Homo sapiens: one gene and its partners. The protein of the gene in region 4 interacts with the protein of the main gene of each other region in a biochemical or structural test. Each region holds a gene or a part of one and is shown on either strand. Other genes may lie near its edges. The genes, in order: ERBB2, KDR, SMAD2 and SH2D2A.

Region 1 (7,049 bases), on a different chromosome or scaffold from region 4:
CCAGGGCGCCACTCAGCCCTCATCCTGCCCTTTGCCCAACAGTGACGCGCACTGTCTGTGCCGGTGGCTGTGCCCGCTGCAAGGGGCCACTGCCCACTGACTGCTGCCATGAGCAGTGTGCTGCCGGCTGCACGGGCCCCAAGCACTCTGACTGCCTGGTATGTGCCTCTGCTTTGTGCCCAATGTGCTCTACCCCCCAGGATGCAAGGGGTGGGCACCCTGCCTGGTACTGCCCTATTGCCCCTGGCACACCAGGGCAAAACAGCACAGTGAAAGCCAGCCACCTGTCCCCCCAGGCCTGCCTCCACTTCAACCACAGTGGCATCTGTGAGCTGCACTGCCCAGCCCTGGTCACCTACAACACAGACACGTTTGAGTCCATGCCCAATCCCGAGGGCCGGTATACATTCGGCGCCAGCTGTGTGACTGCCTGTCCCTGTGAGTGCCAGGGAGAAACACAGTTTTCTCATTTTGGTGGGGAGGTTTGTTTCTGTAAATGGGAGCATATGGGGAGCACTGTCTGCATCTTGCTTTGAGAGCTGGTCATGACAGTTCCTGCCGAGCTGCCTTGTTCTTTCAACAGCTGTGGAGCAGGTGGCAGTAAGGAGAGGCAGCTAAGAGCCCAGACTTGGGAGCCAGACTGCCTGGGTTTGAAACCCAGCTCTATCAATTAGTAGGCACGTGACCCTCTTGCTGTGCCTCAGTTTCCTCATCAGTAAAATGGGGGCAAGAATAGTCCCAACTGCATAAGATGGTTATAACATTTGAAAGAGTTAATATTTGTAAAGCTCTTAGAACGGTGCCTGGTATGTACTAAGTGCTCCTAAATGTTAGCTTTTATTCTATAGCCTGGTGAGGTCAGTTTTACCTTTCGTTTTGTTTTTGAGACCGAATTTAGTTAGCTCTATCGCAGTGGCGCGATCTCGGCTCACTGCAACCTCCGCCTCCCAGGTTCGTGCTATTCTCGTGTCTCAGCCTCCTGAGTAGCTGGGATTACAGGCGCCCACCACCATGCCTCGCTAAATTTTGTATTTTTAGTAGAGACAGGGTTTCACCACGTTGGCCAGACTGGTCTCGAACTCCTGACTTCAGGCGATCCACCTGCCTCGGCCTCTGAAAGTGCTGGGATTACAGGCGTGAGCCACTGCACCCGGACTTTTTTTTTTTTGGCAGAGTCTCGCTCCATTGCCCAGGCTGGAGTGCAGTGGTGCAATTTTGGCTCACTGCAACCTCTGCCTTCCGCATTCAAGCAATTCTTGTGCCTCAGACTCTTGAGTAGGTGGAACTACAGGCATGCACCACCATGGCTGGGTAATTTTTGTATTTTTAGTAGAGACGGAGTTTCACTATGTTGGCCAAGCTGGTCTCGAACTCCTGACCTCAAGTGATCCACCCGCCTTGGTCTCCCAAAGTGCTGGGATTACAGGCATGAGCCATCGTGCCTGGCCTAGCTCAGTTTTATTTAACAGATCACCTATTTACTGATGGGCGTTTATGGACTGGGCTCAGACCTGGGGAACCTCTTTCCTCCTCTCACAGGAACAGGAGTGGGCCTTCAGATCCTGGCTGACTGTGTTAGGGAGAGGACAAAATGTAGAGCCAGACCATTTGGGTTCAAATCCTCGCTCCTCCACTCACTAGCACAATGACCTTGAATAATTTACAGAACTCTCTGCTTTGGTCTCCCTTTTTGCAAAATGGGAATCTCACAGTGCTGATCCCGTCTGGTTGTTGTGAGGGGTAAATGGATGTCAGGTGCTGATGCGTGGTAGGGCATTTAAGTATTGGTTGATATTATTCTTCTTGTGCCTGGGCACGGTAATGCTGCTCATGGTGGTGCACGAAGGGCCAGGGTATGTGGCTACATGTTCCTGATCTCCTTAGACAACTACCTTTCTACGGACGTGGGATCCTGCACCCTCGTCTGCCCCCTGCACAACCAAGAGGTGACAGCAGAGGATGGAACACAGCGGTGTGAGAAGTGCAGCAAGCCCTGTGCCCGAGGTACCCACTCACTGCCCCCGAGGCCAGCTGCAGTTCCTGTCCCTCTGCGCATGCAGCCTGGCCCAGCCCACCCTGTCCTATCCTTCCTCAGACCCTCTTGGGACCTAGTCTCTGCCTTCTACTCTCTACCCCTGGCCCCCCTCAGCCCTACAAGTGTCCCTATATCCCCTGTCAGTGTGGGGAGGGGCCCGGACCCTGATGCTCATGTGGCTGTTGACCTGTCCCGGTATGAAGGCTGAGACGGCCCCTTCCCCACCCACCCCCACCTCCTCAGTGTGCTATGGTCTGGGCATGGAGCACTTGCGAGAGGTGAGGGCAGTTACCAGTGCCAATATCCAGGAGTTTGCTGGCTGCAAGAAGATCTTTGGGAGCCTGGCATTTCTGCCGGAGAGCTTTGATGGGTAAGAGTGGGCACGATGACCTGAGACAGTGTCAGGGCAGACAGAGTCCTGAGGATCCAGATGTGGCAGCATCTCTTGGGGATGGCAGGAGACAGAAGTGGGGGGATCAAGAATGCAAAGAAAGCAGATGGGAGACCAGAGGAGCAGGGCCTTTGGTGGGTGGGGGTGATTATTTTTGTAAATGACATGCTATCCGTGAACAAGGACTTGTATGGAGGTCAGACCATCTAGATAAAGTAAAATTCCCTTTGAGTTCATAGCAGCTTTATTCAAAATATCCCCAAATTGGAAATAACTCAAATGTGCATCACTAGGTGAAGGAATAAACAAGTGGCAGTGTATCCATTTGGTGAAGTTCTACTTAGCAACCAAAGGAAATGAACTACCGATACAACATAAATGAATCTCAGAAACATTACATTGAGCAAAAGAAGCCAGAGACAAGATTCCATACTGTCTGATCCCCTTTATGTGAGGCTCTGAACCGAAAAAACCACTCTGTGGTGGGAGAGATCAGAACGGTGGTTGCCCCAGGGTGGGGGGCTTCAAAAGGGAGGCACACAAGGACATTTCTGGGGTAATAGAAATGCTCTGTATAGTGATTGGGGTAGTGGATACATGAGCGAATCCATTTGTCAAAACTCATCAAACTGTGTGATAAGAGTCTGTGCATTTTATTTATTTCATTTTATTTTTTGAGATAGAGTCTCACTCTGTCAGCAGGCTGGAGTGCAGTGGTACGATCTTGGCTCACTGCAACCTCTGCCTCCTGGATTCAAGCAATTCTCCTGCCTCAGTCTCCTGAGTAGCTGGGACTACAGGTGTGTGCCACCATGCCCAGCTAATTTTTGTATTTTTAATAGAGATGGGGTTTCACCATGTTGGCAAGGATGGTCTCGATCTCTTGACGTCGTGATCCGCCCACCTCAGCCTCCCAAAGTGCTGGGATTACAGGCATGAGCCACCACACCCGGTGCATTTTATTGTATATAAGTTATACTTCAATAAGAAATGAATTGGGGCCAGGCACGGTGGCTCACGCCTGTAATCCCAGCACTTTGGGAGGCCGAGGCAGGCAGATCACTTGAGGTCAGGAGTTCAAGACCAGCCTGGCCAACATGGTGAAACCCCATCTCTACTAAAAAATATAAAAAATTAGCCAGGCTTCCTGGCATGCGCCTATCATCCCAGCTACTTGGGAGGCTGAGGCAGGAGAATTGCATGAACTCGGGAGGTGGAGGTTGTAGTGAGCTGAGATTTCGCTATTGCACTCCAGCCTGGGCGACAGAGTGAGACCCTGTCTCAAAAAGAAAAAAAAAAAAAAGGGTCAGGCGCCGTGGTGCACACCTGTAATCCCAGCACTTTGGGAGGCTGAAGCAGGAAGATTGCTTGAGCCCAGGAATTCAAGAACAGCGTGGGCAACATAGTGAGATCCCATCTCTACAAAAAAACACAAAAAATTAGCCGGGCATGGTGGTACGCACCTGTAGTCTCAGCTACTAGGGAGACTGAGGTGGGAGAATCACCTGAGCCTGGGAGGTGGAGGTTGCAGTGGGTTGAAATCATGTCACTGTACTCCAGCCTGGGTGACAGAATGAGACCCTGTCTCAAAAAAAAAAAAAAAAAAAAAATTCCCTTTCACACTTCCTTTACCTCCACTCCCCTTTCCAGAGGGGGCCATGGTTAACAGTGTGTGTGTTCACCTAGACCGTTTATGCATCTGTAGACACACACACAGTGAAGTGTGGTTTTCGTCGTTTTGGTGGGGAGGTTGGTTTCTGTAAATGGGAACATATAGGGAGCACTGTCTGCACCTTGCTTTGAGAGCCGGTCATGACAGTTCCCATTGAACTGCCTTGTTCTTTCAATAGCTGCAGAGCAGGTGGCGGCAAGGAGAGGCAGCTAAGAGCCCAGACTTGGGAGCCAGACTGCCTGGGTTTGAAACCCGGCTCTACCACTTACTAGGCATGTGACCCTTGTGCTGTGCCTCAGTTTCTTCATCTGTAAAGTGGGGGCAAGAACAGTCCCAACTTCATAAGATGGTTATACCACCATGCCTGGCCAGATGATTATAAAGTTTGAATGAGTTAATATTTGTAAAGCTCTTAGAACAGTGCCTGGCAGATACTAGGTGCTCCTAAATGTTGGTTTTTATTATGTGGCTGGGTGGCTCGGGGTTTTATTTAACAGCTCCCCTATTTACTAATAGACATTTAGATCATGTTCCATTTTCACTCTTACAAACAGTTCCACTTTGTGTGTGGCTCTGGGAACATGGGCCAGTGTCTCCCTAGGCCACATTCCTAGAAATAAGATTTCTTTTCTTTTTTTTTTTTTTTTGAGACAGAGTCTCGCTTTATCGCCAGGCTGGTGTGCAGTAGTGTGATCTCGGCTCACTGCAACCTCTGCCTCCCGGGTTCAAGTGATTCTCCTGCCTCAGCCTCTCGAGTAACTGGGACTATAGGCGCGCGGCACCACACCCAGCTAATTTTTGTATTTGTAGTAGAGATGGGGTTTCACCATGTTGGCCAGGATGGTCTCCATCTCTTGACTTCGTGATCCGCCCGCCTCGGCCTCCCAAAGTGCTGGGATTACAGGCGTGAGCCACTGAGCCCAGGCAGAAATAAGATTTCTAGATCAAAGGATATAAATACTGTTTTGATAGATGTTGCCGAACTAAGGCCTGGGCTTTGAAGCCCAGGATGGGAACAGCTGGGCTCGATGGGCAAAGGGTTTGAGTGAAGGCATTCATGGTGGGGAGTGGCTGGCATGGCCAGTGCTGGGAGTGATGTCCACCCTGTTCCTGGCCCTGCTGACTCCTCTCCTGACCCCTCCAGGGACCCAGCCTCCAACACTGCCCCGCTCCAGCCAGAGCAGCTCCAAGTGTTTGAGACTCTGGAAGAGATCACAGGTGGGCTCTGTCTCTGCATCCTGTTCTGCAGGGGCTGGGAGTCCTTGTCCTGTCCCCACTCCTTTAATCTCACCCTCTGCCTGCAGGTTACCTATACATCTCAGCATGGCCGGACAGCCTGCCTGACCTCAGCGTCTTCCAGAACCTGCAAGTAATCCGGGGACGAATTCTGCACAAGTGAGCACTGAGAAAGAGGGGGCCTGATGGGGAGGAGTCCCAGGGAGGAGTCCCTGTGGGAAGCTTTGGGCCTGAGGGAGTACTCCTGTAGCAGTAACCTTTCCATGAAAGTCTGCAGAGTGTGCTGGGGATGGAGGAAGATGAGAATAGCCTTTGCTGACCGGGAAGGGGTCCGTGGTAAGGTGCCCACCTTTCTCCCATAGTGGCGCCTACTCGCTGACCCTGCAAGGGCTGGGCATCAGCTGGCTGGGGCTGCGCTCACTGAGGGAACTGGGCAGTGGACTGGCCCTCATCCACCATAACACCCACCTCTGCTTCGTGCACACGGTGCCCTGGGACCAGCTCTTTCGGAACCCGCACCAAGCTCTGCTCCACACTGCCAACCGGCCAGAGGACGAGTGTGGTAAGACAGGGAGCCCAGTGTGCGCACTCCCCATCTGCCAGCACACAGCAGTGCCCAGGGGGCCCTGGCAGCAGCGTTCTTGGACTTGTGCAGACTGCCCGTCTCTGTGCACCCTTCTTGACTCAGCACAGCTCTGGCTGGCTTGGCCTCTTGGCATGGCTTCTCTAGCTGGGTCCTACCTGCCTTGGCATCCTTCCCTCCCCCTCTGTTTCTGAAATCTCAGAACTCTTCCTCTCCCTACATCGGCCCCACCTGTCCCCACCCCTCCAGCCCACAGCCATGCCCACAGCCAGTTCCCTGGTTCACTTGGACCTGGGGCCTCCCCTAAAAGTCCCCTGCGGTCCCTTCCTCCTCACTGCAGTGGGCGAGGGCCTGGCCTGCCACCAGCTGTGCGCCCGAGGGCACTGCTGGGGTCCAGGGCCCACCCAGTGTGTCAACTGCAGCCAGTTCCTTCGGGGCCAGGAGTGCGTGGAGGAATGCCGAGTACTGCAGGGGTATGAGGGGCGGAGGAGAGGGTGGCTGGAGGGGTGCATGGGGCTCCTCTCAGACCCCCTCACCACTGTCCCTTCTCTCAGGCTCCCCAGGGAGTATGTGAATGCCAGGCACTGTTTGCCGTGCCACCCTGAGTGTCAGCCCCAGAATGGCTCAGTGACCTGTTTTGGACCGGTGAGCTGCTGGCGGGCTCAGAGCTGGGTGGAGGGGGGCAGCGAGGGGGATTGCCAGGGACTTGGCAGGATGGCGAGATGCAGTAGGGTGTGCTATCTGGTAAAATATCCCTGGAGAGGGCTCAGCGCTCAGACCTGAACAGCAACAGAGTGGCAGAAAAGGGGCCTGGGGGACACTGGGGCCCTTCAGACTATGAAAAGGTTCTAAGGAGGTCTGTGTTGGTGGCTGTGACTGTGGCTGTGCTAGGGTGGTGAGCCCTGTGGGCTCAGGCGTCAGACTACCTGGATTCAGACCCAGCTCCTGCTTCCAACCTTGGTTTTTTATTCCTAAAATGGGTATTGTAATAATACCTACCTTGCTGGGGTGTGGCAAGAATGAAATTAAACAGGGCTTGGCACAGTGAAGCACGGGAAAGGCTTTCTACAGAGCAGTGACTGTTGTTACTCGCTGTTACACCTTAGGTAATGCGTTTTCCTCTCTGGGTGCC
Region 2 (2,664 bases), on a different chromosome or scaffold from region 4:
ATTACAACCATACACATGCCCCGTAATTCCCAAATTGCCACAATAGGAAAAGCACAAGTGAAATTTAAGAACATCCCAATTTCCTTGAATATCATGCAAGTGGCCCTTTGGCGCCTGTCACTGTATACAAATTTGTCAATCTGCGAGGCCATAAACATGTTCCATCAGTTGGGGCCTTTGCATAACTCGAGAGAACTGCCTTTCATCTCATTTGAGGCTTGAAAGACTTGGACCTGAGTAAGAGGACTTATCTGCAACTACTAATTCATGCGAGTACCTGAAAATAGACCTTGTCCCTGTAAACCTGCTATGCTGATTAACAACTGGGAGAGATACGGGGCTGCGGTCTCCAGGGAGATGGCAGCCATATGGAGTTGGGAATGGGGTGAGGGTAAAAAGCAAAAGAATTGTCTTCTCTCTGCCAACTCCTTTGTTTGCCATTTCTTCTGCAGTGGAATGGTGCCCAGCAAAAGCAGGGAGTCTGTGGCATCTGAAGGCTCAAACCAGACAAGCGGCTACCAGTCCGGATATCACTCCGATGACACAGACACCACCGTGTACTCCAGTGAGGAAGCAGAACTTTTAAAGCTGATAGAGATTGGAGTGCAAACCGGTAGCACAGCCCAGATTCTCCAGCCTGACTCGGGGACCACACTGAGCTCTCCTCCTGTTTAAAAGGAAGCATCCACACCCCCAACTCCTGGACATCACATGAGAGGTGCTGCTCAGATTTTCAAGTGTTGTTCTTTCCACCAGCAGGAAGTAGCCGCATTTGATTTTCATTTCGACAACAGAAAAAGGACCTCGGACTGCAGGGAGCCAGTCTTCTAGGCATATCCTGGAAGAGGCTTGTGACCCAAGAATGTGTCTGTGTCTTCTCCCAGTGTTGACCTGATCCTCTTTTTCATTCATTTAAAAAGCATTTATCATGCCCCCTGCTGCGGGTCTCACCATGGGTTTAGAACAAAGACGTTCAAGAAATGGCCCCATCCTCAAAGAAGTAGCAGTACCTGGGGAGCTGACACTTCTGTAAAACTAGAAGATAAACCAGGCAATGTAAGTGTTCGAGGTGTTGAAGATGGGAAGGATTTGCAGGGCTGAGTCTATCCAAGAGGCTTTGTTTAGGACGTGGGTCCCAAGCCAAGCCTTAAGTGTGGAATTCGGATTGATAGAAAGGAAGACTAACGTTACCTTGCTTTGGAGAGTACTGGAGCCTGCAAATGCATTGTGTTTGCTCTGGTGGAGGTGGGCATGGGGTCTGTTCTGAAATGTAAAGGGTTCAGACGGGGTTTCTGGTTTTAGAAGGTTGCGTGTTCTTCGAGTTGGGCTAAAGTAGAGTTCGTTGTGCTGTTTCTGACTCCTAATGAGAGTTCCTTCCAGACCGTTACGTGTCTCCTGGCCAAGCCCCAGGAAGGAAATGATGCAGCTCTGGCTCCTTGTCTCCCAGGCTGATCCTTTATTCAGAATACCACAAAGAAAGGACATTCAGCTCAAGGCTCCCTGCCGTGTTGAAGAGTTCTGACTGCACAAACCAGCTTCTGGTTTCTTCTGGAATGAATACCCTCATATCTGTCCTGATGTGATATGTCTGAGACTGAATGCGGGAGGTTCAATGTGAAGCTGTGTGTGGTGTCAAAGTTTCAGGAAGGATTTTACCCTTTTGTTCTTCCCCCTGTCCCCAACCCACTCTCACCCCGCAACCCATCAGTATTTTAGTTATTTGGCCTCTACTCCAGTAAACCTGATTGGGTTTGTTCACTCTCTGAATGATTATTAGCCAGACTTCAAAATTATTTTATAGCCCAAATTATAACATCTATTGTATTATTTAGACTTTTAACATATAGAGCTATTTCTACTGATTTTTGCCCTTGTTCTGTCCTTTTTTTCAAAAAAGAAAATGTGTTTTTTGTTTGGTACCATAGTGTGAAATGCTGGGAACAATGACTATAAGACATGCTATGGCACATATATTTATAGTCTGTTTATGTAGAAACAAATGTAATATATTAAAGCCTTATATATAATGAACTTTGTACTATTCACATTTTGTATCAGTATTATGTAGCATAACAAAGGTCATAATGCTTTCAGCAATTGATGTCATTTTATTAAAGAACATTGAAAAACTTGAAGGAATCCCTTTGCAAGGTTGCATTACTGTACCCATCATTTCTAAAATGGAAGAGGGGGTGGCTGGGCACAGTGGCCGACACCTAAAAACCCAGCACTTTGGGGGGCCAAGGTGGGAGGATCGCTTGAGCCCAGGAGTTCAAGACCAGTCTGGCCAACATGGTCAGATTCCATCTCAAAGAAAAAAGGTAAAAATAAAATAAAATGGAGAAGAAGGAATCAGACATAATTTCCATGTGGTTGTTTTACATTTTTACTGGTTTTCTTACTCTTCTTATAAGGGATATTTTCATAAACTGATTATATATTTTACAAACCAATAAATGTATTTGTAGTACAAAGTATGAGGGTATAATATCACCACAACTATTTTGAGGATAAGTATGTCTGGTTTAAAGTTTAACTGCTTCTTCCCTCTTCTTCTTCATTACAAAGAATTCACACACACACACACACACACACACACACACACACACACGCCACGCATACACCCCCCAACACCCACACCTCCTCCCAGCCCCCCCACACCCA
Region 3 (7,049 bases), on a different chromosome or scaffold from region 4:
TCCTTACTAAATCACCCCTCCATTTGCTGCAGTTGCCCTTGCGTGCTGTACTCAGACTTGGAGGAAGTGATGTCTTATTCAAGGCCAGTTTTTGTACTAGTGGTTAAATAAATGGTTTCCAAATTGGAGTCAGAAGGAGAGCTTCTAAAATGTAGGTTCCCTGGCCTCAATTGTGAGATTCTGCTTTAGCAGGTCTGGAATTGGAGCACTGGGATCTGCATTTTCAGAAAACCCAAAATGATTATCAGCCAGGACTTAAACCTCTGCTTTAGACCACATTCCCTGTGGGCTTTCAGATTTTCTATCAATGTTCTTCCCTCTTCCCAGCTCCCACACATTAAAACTCAGATCATGCAGAAAAGAAGTTACAGTTCCTTCATTTCACATCAATTTCTCATGCATCCCATCTGGTTTTGGGAAGGTGTGGGACGAGGTGGATGGCCTTAAACTTGCCAATCAAAGATAACGTTCTCTTTCGATTCAAATAGCCTATCTCAGGCTTAAAACCATCTCTTTGGATAAATGCTCAGCTTTTCAAAGGTTCTTCCTAGCTTCTTCCTCATGATGGCATCTAGTGGGTGAGAACAGTCATCTCCAGGTGACACAGGAAAGAGTTTCTCTAATGTATGTGCTGAGGTCCTTGACGGTCCTGCTGCTGGTGCTCATCCTGCCATCTTTGCTGGATGTCACTGAGTCTACTGGGTAATGTAAGTGGGTCCCTGGCTTTTGTTCACTGCTGTCATGCCCTGCTCCTGACCACAACTCTGTCATTGCCTTTGGTCTCAAGGTCTCTACCTTAATAGCTTCCATGTCCCAACTATGGGACTGTTAATCTGCTGGGCTTTGGAGTGGGTGGGAAGGGATGATGTTGGAACTTTGGGATGTACTGAACATCTTGCTCAAGCTTTGGGAAGCCAACATTTTCTCAGACTGACTAGACACCTCCTTCCACCAATGCTGAGCTAGTGCTCCTGTGCCATACTGGGTAAGCCTCTAAGTCATGAGTAGGACTTTTTTGAGTGGCTTGCAGTCTTCCCCAGGCTATGCCAGGAAAGTAGTTGACTAACCCTGCTGCTCCAAGACTCGCATACCCATCCTGAAGTTTCCGTTTATTTCCCAACAGGGCAATTGCAATCTCAATCAATCTCTCCCTGCCCTGGGAGTCATTCCACTCCTGCCTAATGAAGAGACTCTTCTCACATCGTATTCTCAGTTTCTCTTATCCATGGTTAGGAGTAAAACTCATGTTCAGTTGTCCAAGCTTTGCTTTTAGTATGTGAATGGAGCTCTTAGCATGTAGAACTCCCTTCTCATTCTCAGTAAAGTCTGACTTTGAAGACTACTTATCATCTTCCTAGAGATGCCAAAGAATAATCAAGATAATAAAGGCAGGCTCTGAGATTCACAGCTGAGTAGCAACTGTGCTGTTACTCTAGTACACACCCTCTCCTTTCCTGTGACTGTCAGGCTTCAGGGCTTACCTTTATTGGAAAGACAGCAGGGGGGCATATATGAAGAAAATGGAATCTTTAATATTGTCAAAGTCTTGACCCAATAGAGACATTCTTGCCCCAGACTCTCTTGCTTCAGTGCCTTTGCCTGTTCTGGTCCTAAGTACCTTGAATATCCTTCTCTTGATGCCCTGATATAAAACTCTTTATTCCTCAAAGCCAAGTTCAGGTTATCACCTCCACCACAGACTTTTCTTTCCCTCCCCAAACTTCATTGCCTCTTCTCATCACTCCCTTTGTAATTTGTTTATACTGGTAAGAGAGCATTCATCATAATTAGGCCTATCTATGCCTACCTTTCTTGTTAAATTATGAGCTTTGTTCTGCCTTGGATATCTCTCTGGCTTGGATATCTCTCTGGCCTTTGCTCTGCACTTCCAAATGTATCCATTATTCAAGACCCAGGTTTCCAGCCTGATCAACATAGCAAGATCCCATCTCTCCAAAAAAAAAAAAAAAAAAAAATTGTGGGGCCGGGTACAGTGGCTCATGCCTGTAATCCCAGCACTTTGGGAGGCCGAGGCAGGTGGATCATGAGGTCACGAGTTTGAGACCAGTCTGGCCAACATAGTGAAACCCCATCTGTACTAAAAATGCAGAAAATTAGCCGGGTGTGGTGGTGTGTGCCTGTAATCCCAGCTACTCGGGAGGCTGAGGCAGGAGAATCGCATGAACCCGGGAGGCAGAGGTTGCAGTGAGCCGAGATTGCGCCACTGCACTCCAGCCTGGGTGACATTGCAAGACTCCATCTCAAAAAAAAAAAAAAAAAAAATTAGCTGGGCATGGTGGCAGGCACCTGTAGTCCCAGCTACTTGAGAGGCTGAGGTGGGAGGATTGCTTGAGCCCAGGAAGTCGAGGCTTCATGAGCCATGTTTGTGCTACTGCACTCTAGCCTGGATGACAAAGTGAGATCCTTTTCTAAAAATAAGGACCCAGTTTATTTTATTTAGTTATTTAGTTATTTTTGAGACCAAGTTTCATCACTCAGGCTGGAGTGCAATGGCACAGTCTTGACTCACTGCAACCTCTGCCTCCTGGATTCAAGCAATTCTTCTGCCTCAGCCTCTTGAGTAGCTGGGATTGCAGGTGCCCGCCACCACACCTGGCTAATTTTTGTATTTTTGGTAGAGACAGGGTTTCACTATGTTGGCCAGGCTGGTCTCAAACTCCTGACCTCAGGTGATCCACCTGCCTTGGTCTCCCAAACTGCTGGGATTACAGGTGTGAGTCACCCTGCCTGGCCAGAACCCAGTTTAAATTCCATCCTCTCTGCAGAGTCTTCCTTAACCACCCCTATTGAAAGTTACCCCTGCTTCCTACAAGAAGTGGTACTTGGATGTTCATGAGATACCTGTGCAAGGCTCCTGTGGGGGTCCTGGGGAGACAGTGACATGGACACTCATGAAAGGAACCTTGGAATAGCGAGTGTGTGTGCTATAAAATGTGCTTTAGATTTGATTACCACCACTTAAGTTATGAGCTCTGATATGGTTTGGGTCTCCATCCCCACCCAAATCTCATCTTGAATTGTAATCCCTACATGTTGAGGGAAGGAAGTAATTGTATTATGGGGGTGGTTCTCCCATGCTGTTCTCATGATAGTGAATTCTCACAGGATCTGATGGTTTTATAAATGGTAGTTTTTCCTGTACTTTCACACACTCACACTCTCTTCTGCCACCTTGTGAAGAAGGTGCCTGCTTCCCCTTCTGCCATAATTGTAAGTTTCCTGAGGCCTCCCCAGCTGTATTAGTCTGATCTCACGCGGCTAATAAAGAGATACCGGAGACTGGGTAATTTATAAAAGAGGTTTAATTGACTCACAGTTTTACATGGCTGGGGAGGCCTCACAATTATGGCAGAAGGTGAAGGGGGAGCAAGACACATCTTACATGGCATCAGGCGAGAGAGCTTGTGTAGGGGAACTCCCCTTTATAAAACCATCAGATCTCGTGAGACTTATTCACTATTACAAGAGCAGCACGGGAAAGACCCACCCCCATGATTCAGTTACCTCTCACTGGGTCCCTCACATAATATGGGGAATTATGGGAGCTCCAATTCAAGATGAGATTTGGGTGGGGACACAGCCAAACTATATCACCAGCCATGTGGAACTGTTGAGTCAATTAAACCTCTTTCCTTTATAAATTACCCAGTCTCAGGTATTTCTTTATAGCAGTGTGAGAACAGACTAATACAAGCACCTTGAGGTCAGAGGCTAAAATCACTTTTTCCCAAACATTTCCTTTTTATATATGCTACATCTTTGTGTCTGCTTCAACATTTCCAGCAGTGCTTTATATATGGTAGGCATGCAATAAATGCTTCTTGATCGACTGACAGGTGCTCAGAAGATCTAGGTTGGTTGATTCTCTTGTGATGCCATCTTTTCCTGAGAGCTCATTAATTTTTAAGTTGTTTTCCTTGAAATGCATGGTATGTTTCCTCCACCCTGCTCTTTGCCTTTCATAGGGTTCCATTTTGATCAGCTGCTCTCATTGTCTGTTTTGTGATCAAAGGTTCTGATGAACTTTGGAATATGTGTATGTTTGGAGTGAGGATGGGGTCTGGAGGAGATGCATGGTTGAGGACCAATTCACCCAACCCAGCTTACAGAAGTAAAGCGGCCCCTTAGGAGCACTGAAGCATTGCTGTGGATTTCAGAATTACCTTATTTCTTTTTCTTTTTTTTTTTTTTTTTTTTGAGACGAGGTCTCGCTCTGTCGCCCAGGCTGGAGTGCAGTGGCACAATCTCAGCTCACTGCAAGCTCCGCCTCCTGGGTTCACACCATTCTCCTCCCTCAGCCTCCCCAGCAGCTGGGACTATAGGTGCACGCCGCCACGCCTGGCTAATTTTTGTATTTTTAGTGGAGACAGGGTTTCACCGTGTTAGCCAGGATGGTCTCAATCTCCTGACCTTGTGATCCACCCGCCTCAGCCTCCCAAAGTGCTGGGATTACAGGCGTGAGCCACCGTGCCCAGCCAGCTTCTTTCAAATCAGAGTAGGCCTTCCAGTGTGGCAGGCCATAAGATCTGAAGTTTTCACCCTGTTCCTGGAAGCCAAGTGGACAGCAACTAATTTTTACTTTCTTTATTGCACATTTGGGGCTTGGGGGATAGAGTCAGATGTGTGTCAGTTGAAACTGTAGCTACTGCATTCCACTCCTTGGGGGATCGTAGTGCTCATGCCAACAGAAAACTTCGAGGCTAATAATTACTGTCTTCAGAGTACAAGACAGGCACGGAAGTTGTTTTGGCATAAGAAAACCACGATTTGCATCCCACAGTCTAAGGAAGACGATGCTGAATTCAGAAGATGGTGCAAAAGTGTGACAGTTCAGCTGTGGCGGCTGTTGCTGATGCATGGGACTATTTTATTTACATTTCCTTTCTTCTTTTTTAACAGAGACAGGATCTTGCTGTGTTGCCCAGCCTGGTCTTAAACTCCTGGGCCCAAGTGATCCTCCCACCTCAGCCTCCCAACGTGTTGGGATTACAGGCATGAGCCACCATGCCTGGGCTTTATTTATATTTCCAAGTCAAATGTTAGTTGGTCAATCAGTCTTTTTAAGCACCAATTTTGTGCCTAGCCTTGTGGAAACTGTAGGAAAAAGATACTTTTTATTTGGGAGGACCTTGATTTGCTGTCACAGGTGCCACTAATGCCAATTATAAGGCAGTGTGGAATCAGGTGATTGAAAGCCCAGTCTGTAGCATAAACTGCTGCAGGGTTCCAGTGGGGGCAATTAAGGTGGGCAGGGAGGGTGGATAGCATTTGACTTTGACAGCATAACCTGAGCAGAGGCACAGTGGGGATGGTGAGTGTGCAGTGGGAGGAGGGAGAGAGGTAAGTGGTAGGGAAGAGGTGGGAAGGGGGCAAGGAGAAGGCTCAGGAGGTTTGGGGACAGGGAAATGACTTGGTTGGCGACCTCTTACTTTCTTCTCGTGTGTGCAATTTGGAATTCACTTGGTTCTTAGTATTTCTGGGTCAGATGACTTCTTTGCAGTATGAGAAACCATTTCCCAGGCTGGCTACCTGGGCTGTGGTATCTTCCAGTGCTCCTCTGTGATTGTACTCAGATCAGCTCGTCTAGGCAGGCAGGATGGCAGAAGCCCTCTGACTTCATGTCTGAAAGAGTATGTGTTTCAACTCTGTAATTACAGCATTTAACAGACGATATCAGCCCTCTTTGGGATGGCTTTTGGCAAATGGGCTAGAAGTCTATTGTGCATTTAAATGATACTGCATCTTCTCTTTAAAAGGTTTCTCAGTGAGTCCACCCCACTCTGTATCCAAGTATGTCTCAGGCCATGAGGCAAAAGGAAATGAGTAGTTCTTTTTGGTTGGAGAATTAAAAAGAAATCTCCACCCAAGTAACAGGTACATAGTGGGAAAAAATAACATCTGCCTGAAAGCTTCATCTTCAGGCAAAGAGAGGGTCAGGGGGCGGGAGCTTAGTAATGGGGAAACCTCAGAAGATTTAAAGAGAATTACAGACAGACAAGGCTGAACATTGGCTGTCATCCAACAAAGCTCTTATAAGATGGGAATCACTGCCCGGTTCTTGAGCTCCGACCTGGAGGGAAGAGGAGTCTGGAAGACTTGGCACAGGCCTGAGTGCTTCATTGTCTTTCTGGTTCCAAGTCCTCCTCAGCTCACTAGGAAGGAGGTGGGGTGGGGGCAGGTAGGCCACTCTGCATAAGTGCACACATCTACACTGGCTAGTCTACTTCACAATTCCCCCACAGGTTATCCTTATCTCTACCTGGTTCCAGTTCCAGATTGGAGGGATATAGAATACCATCCCCACCCCTCACCTTGCTTGCTCTGGCCTGGAAAACTGTCATTCCTTTACCACCAGCTGGCATCTGCCATATGCTTCAAGGAACTGAATAAAGAGGAAGGGGAAAGAAGAAACTAGAGAAACTGGAATGCTTCCTATCTGACCCCCAAGTACAGGGACTGCCTCTTTCCGTAACGGCACAGAACGTCTCCATCCCTTTGACCTCCACCTCCCCAGAGATGCCCGAGGAGGACAGCCTTGTTTCTGTGATCTGTTGTTGAGAACTGCTGCTGAGAATTCTTCCTTCAGCACCGCCTTAGGCACCATTGGTTTTTCACTAGGTCCGCTGTAGAAAACAGCCAGGAATTACTTAGTTGACTACCACCTGAGGTGCTGTTTGGTGTTGGTAATAAAGAATAAAGGTGGAAATGAAGCAACGAGACTGCTTTTCTTTGTGGTTCATAAATTAATTCTGATAACAGTTTTTAAAAGAGAAGTCAAATATTTTGAGCAGAGCCAAGCTCACTGACATACCTAGGTGGTCTTAGATGTAGCCAATGCGCCAGGTACCACAGGACGCCTAAATTTGTATCAGTGTATACCATCACTAGTTATGAATAAGAATGCCTTCTTGCCACATATCCTCATTAACTCAGTGTATTATCAAACTTATTTAACTCTTTCAGGCCAGGCATTGTGGCCCATGCCTGTAATCCTAGCACTTTGGGAGGCCAAGGCTGGTGGATTTCTT
Region 4 (7,376 bases):
CTAGATCTGATACATTCAGTAAAGTCTTAGGATACAAAATCCGTGTACACAAGTCAGTAATGCTGCTGTACACCAACAACGACCAACCTAAGAATCAAATCAATAACTCAATCCCTTTTACAACAGCTGCAAAAACAAACAAACAAACAAACAAAAAACTTAGGAATATATTTAACCAAGAAGGTTAAAGATCTCTACCAGGAAAACTACAAGGAACTCTACAAAGAAAACTCTATAAGGAACTCTACAAAGAAAACACTGCTGAAAGAAATCAGAGATGACACAAACAAATGGAAACACAGTCCATCCTCATGGATGGTAAGAATCAATATTGTGAAAATGACCATACTGCCCAAAGCAATCTACAGATTCAATGCAATTTCCAACAAAATACCTTCATCATTCTTCACAGAACTATAAAAAACAATCCTAAAATTCACATGGAACCAAAAAAGAGCCCATATAGCCAAAGCAATACTATGCAAAAAGAACAAATCTGGAGGCATCACATTATCCAACTTCGAATTAAACTACAAGGCTATAGTTATCAAAACTGCATGGTACTGGTATAAAAATAGGCATGTAGACCAATGGAACAGAATAGAGAACCCAGAAATAAAGCCAAATACATACAGCCAATTGATCTTTGACAAAGCATACAAAAACATACATTGGGGGGGCTGGATGTGGTGGCTCACGCCTGTAATCTCAGCACTTTGGGAGGCCAAGGCAGGCAGATGGCTTGAGCCCAGGAGTTCGAGACCAGCCTGGGCAACATGGCAAAACCCCATCTCTACAAAAAGTACAAAAATTAGCCATGTGTGGTGGCGCATGCCTGTAGTCCCAACTACTTGGGAGACTAAGGTGAGAAGATCACTTGAGCCCGGGAGGTTGAGGCTGCAGTGAGCCGAGATCGTGCCACTGCATTACAGCCTTGGTGACAGAGTGAGACCCTGTTTCAAAAAATAAACAAATAAATAGATTGGGGAAGGACACCCTATTCAATAAATGGTGCTGAGTAAACTGGCAAGCCACATGTAGAAGAATGAAACTGGTTCCCCATCTCTCTCCTTATACAAAAATCAACTCAAGATGTATTAAAGACTTAAATCTCAGGGCTGAAACCATAAAAATTCTAGAAGATAACATCCAAAAAACTCTTCTGGACATTGGCTTAGGCAAAGAATTCATGACTAAGACCCCAAAAGCAAATGCAACAAGAACAAAAATAAATAGATGGGGAACTAATTAAACTAAAAAGCTTCTGCATAGCAAAAAAAAGTAATCAGCAGAGTAAACAGACAATCCACAGAGTGGGAGAAAACATTCTCAAGCTGTGCATCCAACAACACCCAGTGCCCAGAATCTCAAGGAACTCAAACAAATCAGGAAGAAAAAAACAAATAGGCCAGGCATGATGGCTCATGCCTGTAATCCCAGCAATTTGGGAGGTCAAAGCGGGTGGATCACCTGAGGTCAGGAGTTCCAGACCAGCCTGACCAACATGGAGAAACCCCATCTCTACTAAAAATACAAAATTAGCCAGGCATGGTGGCGCATGCCTGTAATCCCAGCTACTCAGGAAGCTGAGGCAGGAGAATCTGTTGAACCTGAGAGGCGGAGGTGCAGTGAGCCGAGATTATGCCATTGCACTCCAGCATGGGCAACAAGAGCGAAACTCCATCTAAAAAAATAATAAAAATAAAAATAAAAATAAAAAAATAATAATCCCATCAAAAAGTGAGCAAAGGACATGAATAGACATTTCTCAAAAGAAAGTATACAAACAGCCAACAAACATATGAAAAAATGCTCAACACCACAATCATCAGGGAAATGCAAATTAAAATCACAATGAGATACCACCTTATTTCTGCAAGAATGGCCATAATTAAAAAGTCAAAAAACAATAGATGTGGTGAGGTGCGGTGGCTTATGCCTGTGATCCCAGCACTTTGGGAGCCTGAGGCAGGGGGATCACCTGAGGTCAGGAGTTCGAGACCAGCCTGGCCAACATGGTGAAACCCCATTATTTTCTACTAAAAATACAAAAATTAGCCAGGCATGGTTGGTGCTCACCTGTAGTCCCAGCTACAAGGGAGGTTGAGGCAGGAGAATCACTTGAACCTGGGAGGCAGAGGTTGCAGTGAGCCGAGATAGCGCCATTGCACTCCAGCCTGGGTGACAGAGTGAGACTTCATCTCAAACACGGACACACACACACACACAGACACACAAATAGATGTTGGCATGGATGTGGTGAAAAGGGAACAGTTTTACATTGCTAGTGGGAATGTAAATTAGTAAAACCACTATGAAAAACAGTATGGAGATTCCTTAAAAAAACAAAAGTAGAAATACCATTATTTCCAGCAATCCCACTACTGGGTGTCTATTCAAAGGAAAAGAAGTCATTCTATTAAAAAGACACATGCACACGCATGTTTATAGCAGCACAGTTTGCAATTGCAAAGATATGAAACCAACCTAAGTGCCCATCAACCAATGAGTGGATAAAGAAAATGTGGTATATCTGCATCATGGAATACTACTCAGCCAAAAAAAGAACGAAATAATGTCTTTTGCAGTATCTTGGTTGGAGCTGGAGGCCATTATTCTAAGTGGAGTAACTCAGGAATGGAAAATCAAATATCGTATGTTCTCACTTATTAGTGGGAGCTAAGCTATGAGGACACAAAGGCATGAGAGTGATATAAGGGAATTTGGGGACTTGGGGGGAAGGTTGGGTGAGGAATAAAAGGTTACATATTGGGGACAGTGTACACTGCTTGGGTGCCAGGTGCATTAAAATCTCAGAAATCACCACTAGGTAACTTATCCATGTAGCCAAAACCCAACCGTACCCCAAAAATTATTAAAAATTTAGAGCATGTTTTTAAAAGCAAAAAAACAGTACACAATTTTTTAAAAAACAGTAAGTCTTGGCAAGTCCATCTCCCCCATCTGACATCTTGAAACAAAGTTTTTTTTTTCCTCTCTGGGTTCTCAGTACCAAGAACAGTGCATAGCACATAGTCATGAACCTTTGGCCTAAATCACAGTGAAATTAGTGAAAGGAAGTCTACCTTCTAGTCCCAGCACTCACACCAACTTCTCAGACACTGAAAGACCCTGGCCAAGGCACTCCTCTGAGCTTCTGGTAAATGGGGATAATGTTCCTGTCCCCTTCTTAGTTTGTGAAGATAAATTCAGAGAGAAATGGGATTGGTCCTTTGGTATGGTGGGAAGTCTAAGCACATTGAAAGTTTAAGACATTAACACTGGCCAGTGCAGTGGCTCACGCCTGTAATCCCAACACTTTGGGAGGCCGAGGTGGGTGGATCACTTGACGCCAGGAGTTCAAGACCAGCCTGGCCAACACGGTGAAACCCTGTCTCTACTAAAAATACAAAAATTAGCCAGGCATGGTGGTACAAGCCTGTAATCCCAGCTACTCGGGAGGCTGAGGCACAAGAATCCCTTGAACCTGGGAGGCGGAAGTTGCAGTGAGCTGAGATTGTGCCACTGCAGTCCAGCCTGGGTGACAGAGCTAGACTCTGTCTCAAAAAAAAAAAAAAAAAAGATGTCAACACTGATGTTATTAATGACAACTGCTGATAGTGTTGATACTAATGATGACCTGCTTAGCTGGAGGAATTCTCTTTCCTTCCTCCAATATTGCCTGGTTTTGCCCTAACTCAGCTCCATTATCTGCTGAATGATGGAAGCCAGGCCCCCTCCTCTCTAACCCCTTGTCTTATAGATTTCTTTATTATTATTACTATTATTATTATTATTTTAAAAATAGTGATGGGCTCTCACTATGTTACCCAGGGCTGATCATGAACTCCTGGGCTCAAGCGATTCTCTCGCCTGAGCCTCCCAAAGTACTGGGATTACAAGCATGAGCCACCATGCCCAGACTCATAGATTTCACATGTCCTCAAAAAGTCCTTCCAGAAGTCTGACCCACATCCTTCCTGTTGCAGCCCTGCCCCCTCCCTTCCTCATGTCTCCTCAAAGCATGATCCATAAGCACCTTGTGTGGCTTATCCTTGAGGTTGACATCCCCATTCCCACTGCTCAGAACAGGCCAAGAGGCAGAGTGGGAGATTTTCCAGAGAGAAAGAAATAGAAGCCAAGAGAGATGAGAGAGAGAGAGAGAGAGAGAGAGAGAAAGGGAAGTTCTAGTTTGGGGTGAGGGGGCAGAGAAAGAATCTGGAGGGATGAAGGTCAGGCAGCAGTAAGGGCTTCCTAACACCTAAACACAGAGTGACACAGATACCCCCCACCGCTATACCACCGCTATCTACAGCTGCGTGGCTTCCGGGGGTGGGACAATCGTCTTAAGGCTTTCCATGACGTGAGTCCTCGCCAGAACTAAGGCTGTGGGTAAGGCGACATTTCCTGCCCCCGGGGCCAGGGTGAGAGGAGAGATGATGAGTTGCTGAGTGTGCACACCTTTCCGGAACACATACACACACCCTGCTCTGGGATCCCTTGTGAGGCTGCCCTCATGGAGTTCCCCCTGGCCCAGATATGTCCCCAAGGTAAGTGTGAAGTTGAAGGATATGGGTGGGAGGGGGCACAAAGACCCCCATCCCCCTGCCCTCCCTCCTGGGCTTGAGCTCCCACTTCAGGGATGAGGGGCCCCACCCTAAGCCAGAGCTGGCAAAGCTGATTGGCAGGGTGACCACAACCCTGCCTGGGGCTCCATGCCCACTCATCCCTGAGGATAAAGGTGACAGGGTTTGTTGAGGGCTTCTCAGAGAGGAGAGAGGAGGGAGCAGGAGGATGAAGGGAGAAGGAGGCAGAAGATCCTGGACCAGAAGAAGGGCCTGCCCTGAAGTGATCTGCCTCCCTGACCATCCGAAGGCCAGCCTGACTCCCAGCCTCTCCTTCTAGGCACCTGGTGTCCCTCACAACCTCCTCTGGCAGCATTAGCCCCCCATGCCGCCTTGGCTACTTAACCTCATGCCTGAGAAACTCCCCTGCTGCCCTTCTGCGTTTTTCCTGTCGTTAAGACTGTCCCAGCCCTCCAGATCCCCTGAGCCTGGGAGGAGGGGTGGGAGGCAGAGACAGACATAGTTCCTCTCTGAGAAACCCCGGCAGCCCTCTTTGTGCTCACAGGGAGTCACGAAGCCCCCATCCCAACCTTCAGCACCTTCCAGATCACAGACATGACCCGCAGGAGCTGCCAGAACCTGGGCTACACTGCGGTGAGTGGAAACCTGGGGCGGCAGCGTGGTGCAGCTCCCTCATCTCTCCCACCCTCCCATGGGGAAGGACTTGCAGATGGACAAAGGCCACTCCAAGAGAAGGCAGGAATGATCCGGGTCTGCCAACGGGCTGGGGCACAGAGAGAGAGAACGAAAATGAGGAGTACCTCCTTCATGCGCCGAGTTGCCCACTCACTCCCTTACTGCTCCTAGGCCCTCTGGAAGCTCAGGCTGAGTCCGCAGATGACCAGGGTGCAGTGCATTGAGTCCCAGAAGCAGGCATCTGCACTCTGTGTCAGTGACCATTTGCCCAGTGCATTCCACATTCCCGTCTCAGTCCTTCTCTCCTGCCCAGTCAATAATTTTCCCTGCGAACTAGGTCAGTCCCTCATATTATGAAGTAAGCCCTCCCTCATTCTGGCCTCTAGGGTGACTTCCTGCATCATGTTTCTTCATCCTCCAGGCCAGGGAATGACTCTGTCCATCTGGAAGGCTGTGCTGCCTTTCCCGCCCCTCCTAGAGCACAGTGTGACAGCTCACTGCTGCTGGATTAAAAGCCCTCAGGACCCAGAGGGCAAAGGAAGGAGAGTCTCTGGAAGCCAGAACAGCTGGAGCTGAAGAAGGGATTTAAGTTAGACTTTAGGAAGGACTTTCTGGGCAATTGTACCCTAAAATAGACAGGAGAGGCTGGGTATGAGGAAAAGAAGGTGGCAGGTGGATCAAAGTCAGGAGAAGGCCCACTCATCATGCTGCTTCCCCCTCCTTGAACTCTTCCCTGATCCAGGCATCTCCCCAGGCCCCGGAGGCTGCCTCCAACACAGGGAATGCTGAGAGGGCAGAGGAGGTGCCTGGAGAAGGAAGCCTGTTCCTGCAGGCCGAGACCCGGGCTTGGTTCCAGAAGACCCAGGCCCACTGGCTCCTGCAGCACGGGGCAGCCCCTGCCTGGTTCCATGGCTTCATCACCCGGAGGTGAGTCATGGAGGAGGAAATTGGCCCAGACAGGGGCAGGGCAAGTCCTGGGTCTGGGTCCTGCCACCTGCCAGGAATAGATGAAGGCTCCCACTTCTACCAGTCTGGAGTAGATGGAGGCGCCCACTCCAGGCTCCCACTCCCAGAGTTTTCCTAGCCTTTCACTGAGGCATCTCTCCAGGGGAGATCATTGGAGAGGCTCCAGTCCAGCCCTCTGTGTACCTCAGCTTCCCCTCTCTAGGCCCCATTATCCTCCTGTCCCTAAGGCCTCGAATGCTGGTATTTTCCACCTCTCTCTCCCTCCAGGCTTACTCCATCTTTATCTCCCAGCCCTCTCTTCTTCCACCCTTGCAGAATCTCCCTCCTCCATTTCTCAGCCTCATTTCTCCCTAACTCTTTGTTCACCTCCTCAGTTCAGCTTTGACTTCTGAAATCTGGAAGTCCAACTACTTTCCCATCCCTGTAGCTGCAGTAGCAGCCCCTGCAGGCTGCCCTTTCAGGATGAGGCCAGGGGAGGATGCGGGGGTCTCCTGAATGGGACCCCTGGCCCCTGTCCACGCCTAATCCCTGCAGCGGGAGAGCAGCGCCCACGTGCTCTCTCTCCCCATCTCCGCCCTAGCCTTTCTCTAGCCGCTCCAGCATGCTTGCTTGGGGGTAGGGGTTCCTCGTGAGAGCCGGGGAGACAGAGGCGAGGCTGGAAGTGTCAGAGCAGGGTTCGGCCCCCTCTCTCCGTCACCCACAGGGAGGCAGAGAGGCTGCTGGAGCCCAAGCCTCAGGGGTGCTACTTGGTGCGGTTCAGCGAGAGCGCGGTGACCTTCGTGCTGACTTACAGGTGAGGGGCGAGGCCCCGCGCCGGGCGACACAAGGCGGGGCTCGGGAGGGGCGGGGCTTGGGTCTGATCCCGTGAGGAGCCGGGCTCTTAGCTCATTCCCCGGGCTGCTGAAGGTGGGGATCACGCCTCTCGCTGGTGACCCTGGCCGAGGAGCGGGAGATAGTCTGATCCCTAACGGCGCCCTCCAGGAGCCGGACTTGCTGCCGCCACTTCCTGCTGGCCCAGCTCAGGGACGGGCGCCACGTGGTGCTGGGCGAGGACAGCGCCCACGCGCGGCTGCAGGACCTGCTGCTGCACTACACCGCGCACCCGCTCAGCCCCTACGGGGAGACGCTCACCGAGCCCCTCGCCCGACA

The links.
Region 1: the proteins of SH2D2A (region 4) and ERBB2 form a complex in vitro, tested with the Homo sapiens proteins (2 studies listed by BioGRID and IntAct, with this or other methods).
Region 2: the proteins of SH2D2A (region 4) and KDR interact in a test that uses a peptide from one of them, tested with the Homo sapiens proteins (one study listed by BioGRID).
Region 3: the proteins of SH2D2A (region 4) and SMAD2 form a complex in vitro, tested with the Homo sapiens proteins (one study listed by BioGRID).

What each region holds. Positions count from the first base shown.
Region 1 is NC_000017.11:39,710,044-39,717,092, forward strand, and holds part of ERBB2 (receptor tyrosine-protein kinase erbB-2 isoform a precursor), read left to right. Parts: intron 1-42; coding exon 43-158; intron 159-296; coding exon 297-438; intron 439-1,884; coding exon 1,885-2,004; intron 2,005-2,278; coding exon 2,279-2,405; intron 2,406-3,109; coding exon of another isoform or gene 3,110-3,226; intron 3,227-5,242; coding exon 5,243-5,316; intron 5,317-5,402; coding exon 5,403-5,493; intron 5,494-5,675; coding exon of another isoform or gene 5,676-5,696; coding exon 5,697-5,896; intron 5,897-6,227; coding exon of another isoform or gene 6,228-6,257; coding exon 6,258-6,390; intron 6,391-6,471; coding exon 6,472-6,562; intron 6,563-7,023; coding exon of another isoform or gene 7,024-7,049. UniProt on the Homo sapiens protein: Protein tyrosine kinase that is part of several cell surface receptor complexes, but that apparently needs a coreceptor for ligand binding. Essential component of a neuregulin-receptor complex, although neuregulins do not interact with it alone.
Region 2 is NC_000004.12:55,077,952-55,080,615, reverse strand, and holds the end of KDR (vascular endothelial growth factor receptor 2 precursor), read left to right. Parts: intron 1-452; coding exon 453-675; 3' UTR 676-2,135; downstream 2,136-2,664. UniProt on the Homo sapiens protein: Tyrosine-protein kinase that acts as a cell-surface receptor for VEGFA, VEGFC and VEGFD. Plays an essential role in the regulation of angiogenesis, vascular development, vascular permeability, and embryonic hematopoiesis.
Region 3 is NC_000018.10:47,808,639-47,815,687, reverse strand, and holds the end of SMAD2 (mothers against decapentaplegic homolog 2), read left to right. Parts: 3' UTR 1-6,731; downstream 6,732-7,049. UniProt on the Homo sapiens protein: Receptor-regulated SMAD (R-SMAD) that is an intracellular signal transducer and transcriptional modulator activated by TGF-beta (transforming growth factor) and activin type 1 receptor kinases.
Region 4 is NC_000001.11:156,813,849-156,821,224, reverse strand, and holds the start of SH2D2A (SH2 domain-containing protein 2A), read left to right. Parts: upstream 1-4,376; 5' UTR 4,377-4,516; coding exon 4,517-4,550; intron 4,551-4,767; exon of another isoform or gene 4,768-5,112; coding exon of another isoform or gene 5,113-5,130; coding exon 5,131-5,219; intron 5,220-5,386; coding exon of another isoform or gene 5,387-5,395; exon of another isoform or gene 5,396-5,475; intron 5,476-6,003; coding exon 6,004-6,188; intron 6,189-6,900; coding exon of another isoform or gene 6,901-6,930; coding exon 6,931-7,020; intron 7,021-7,208; coding exon 7,209-7,376. UniProt on the Homo sapiens protein: Could be a T-cell-specific adapter protein involved in the control of T-cell activation. May play a role in the CD4-p56-LCK-dependent signal transduction pathway. Could also play an important role in normal and pathological angiogenesis.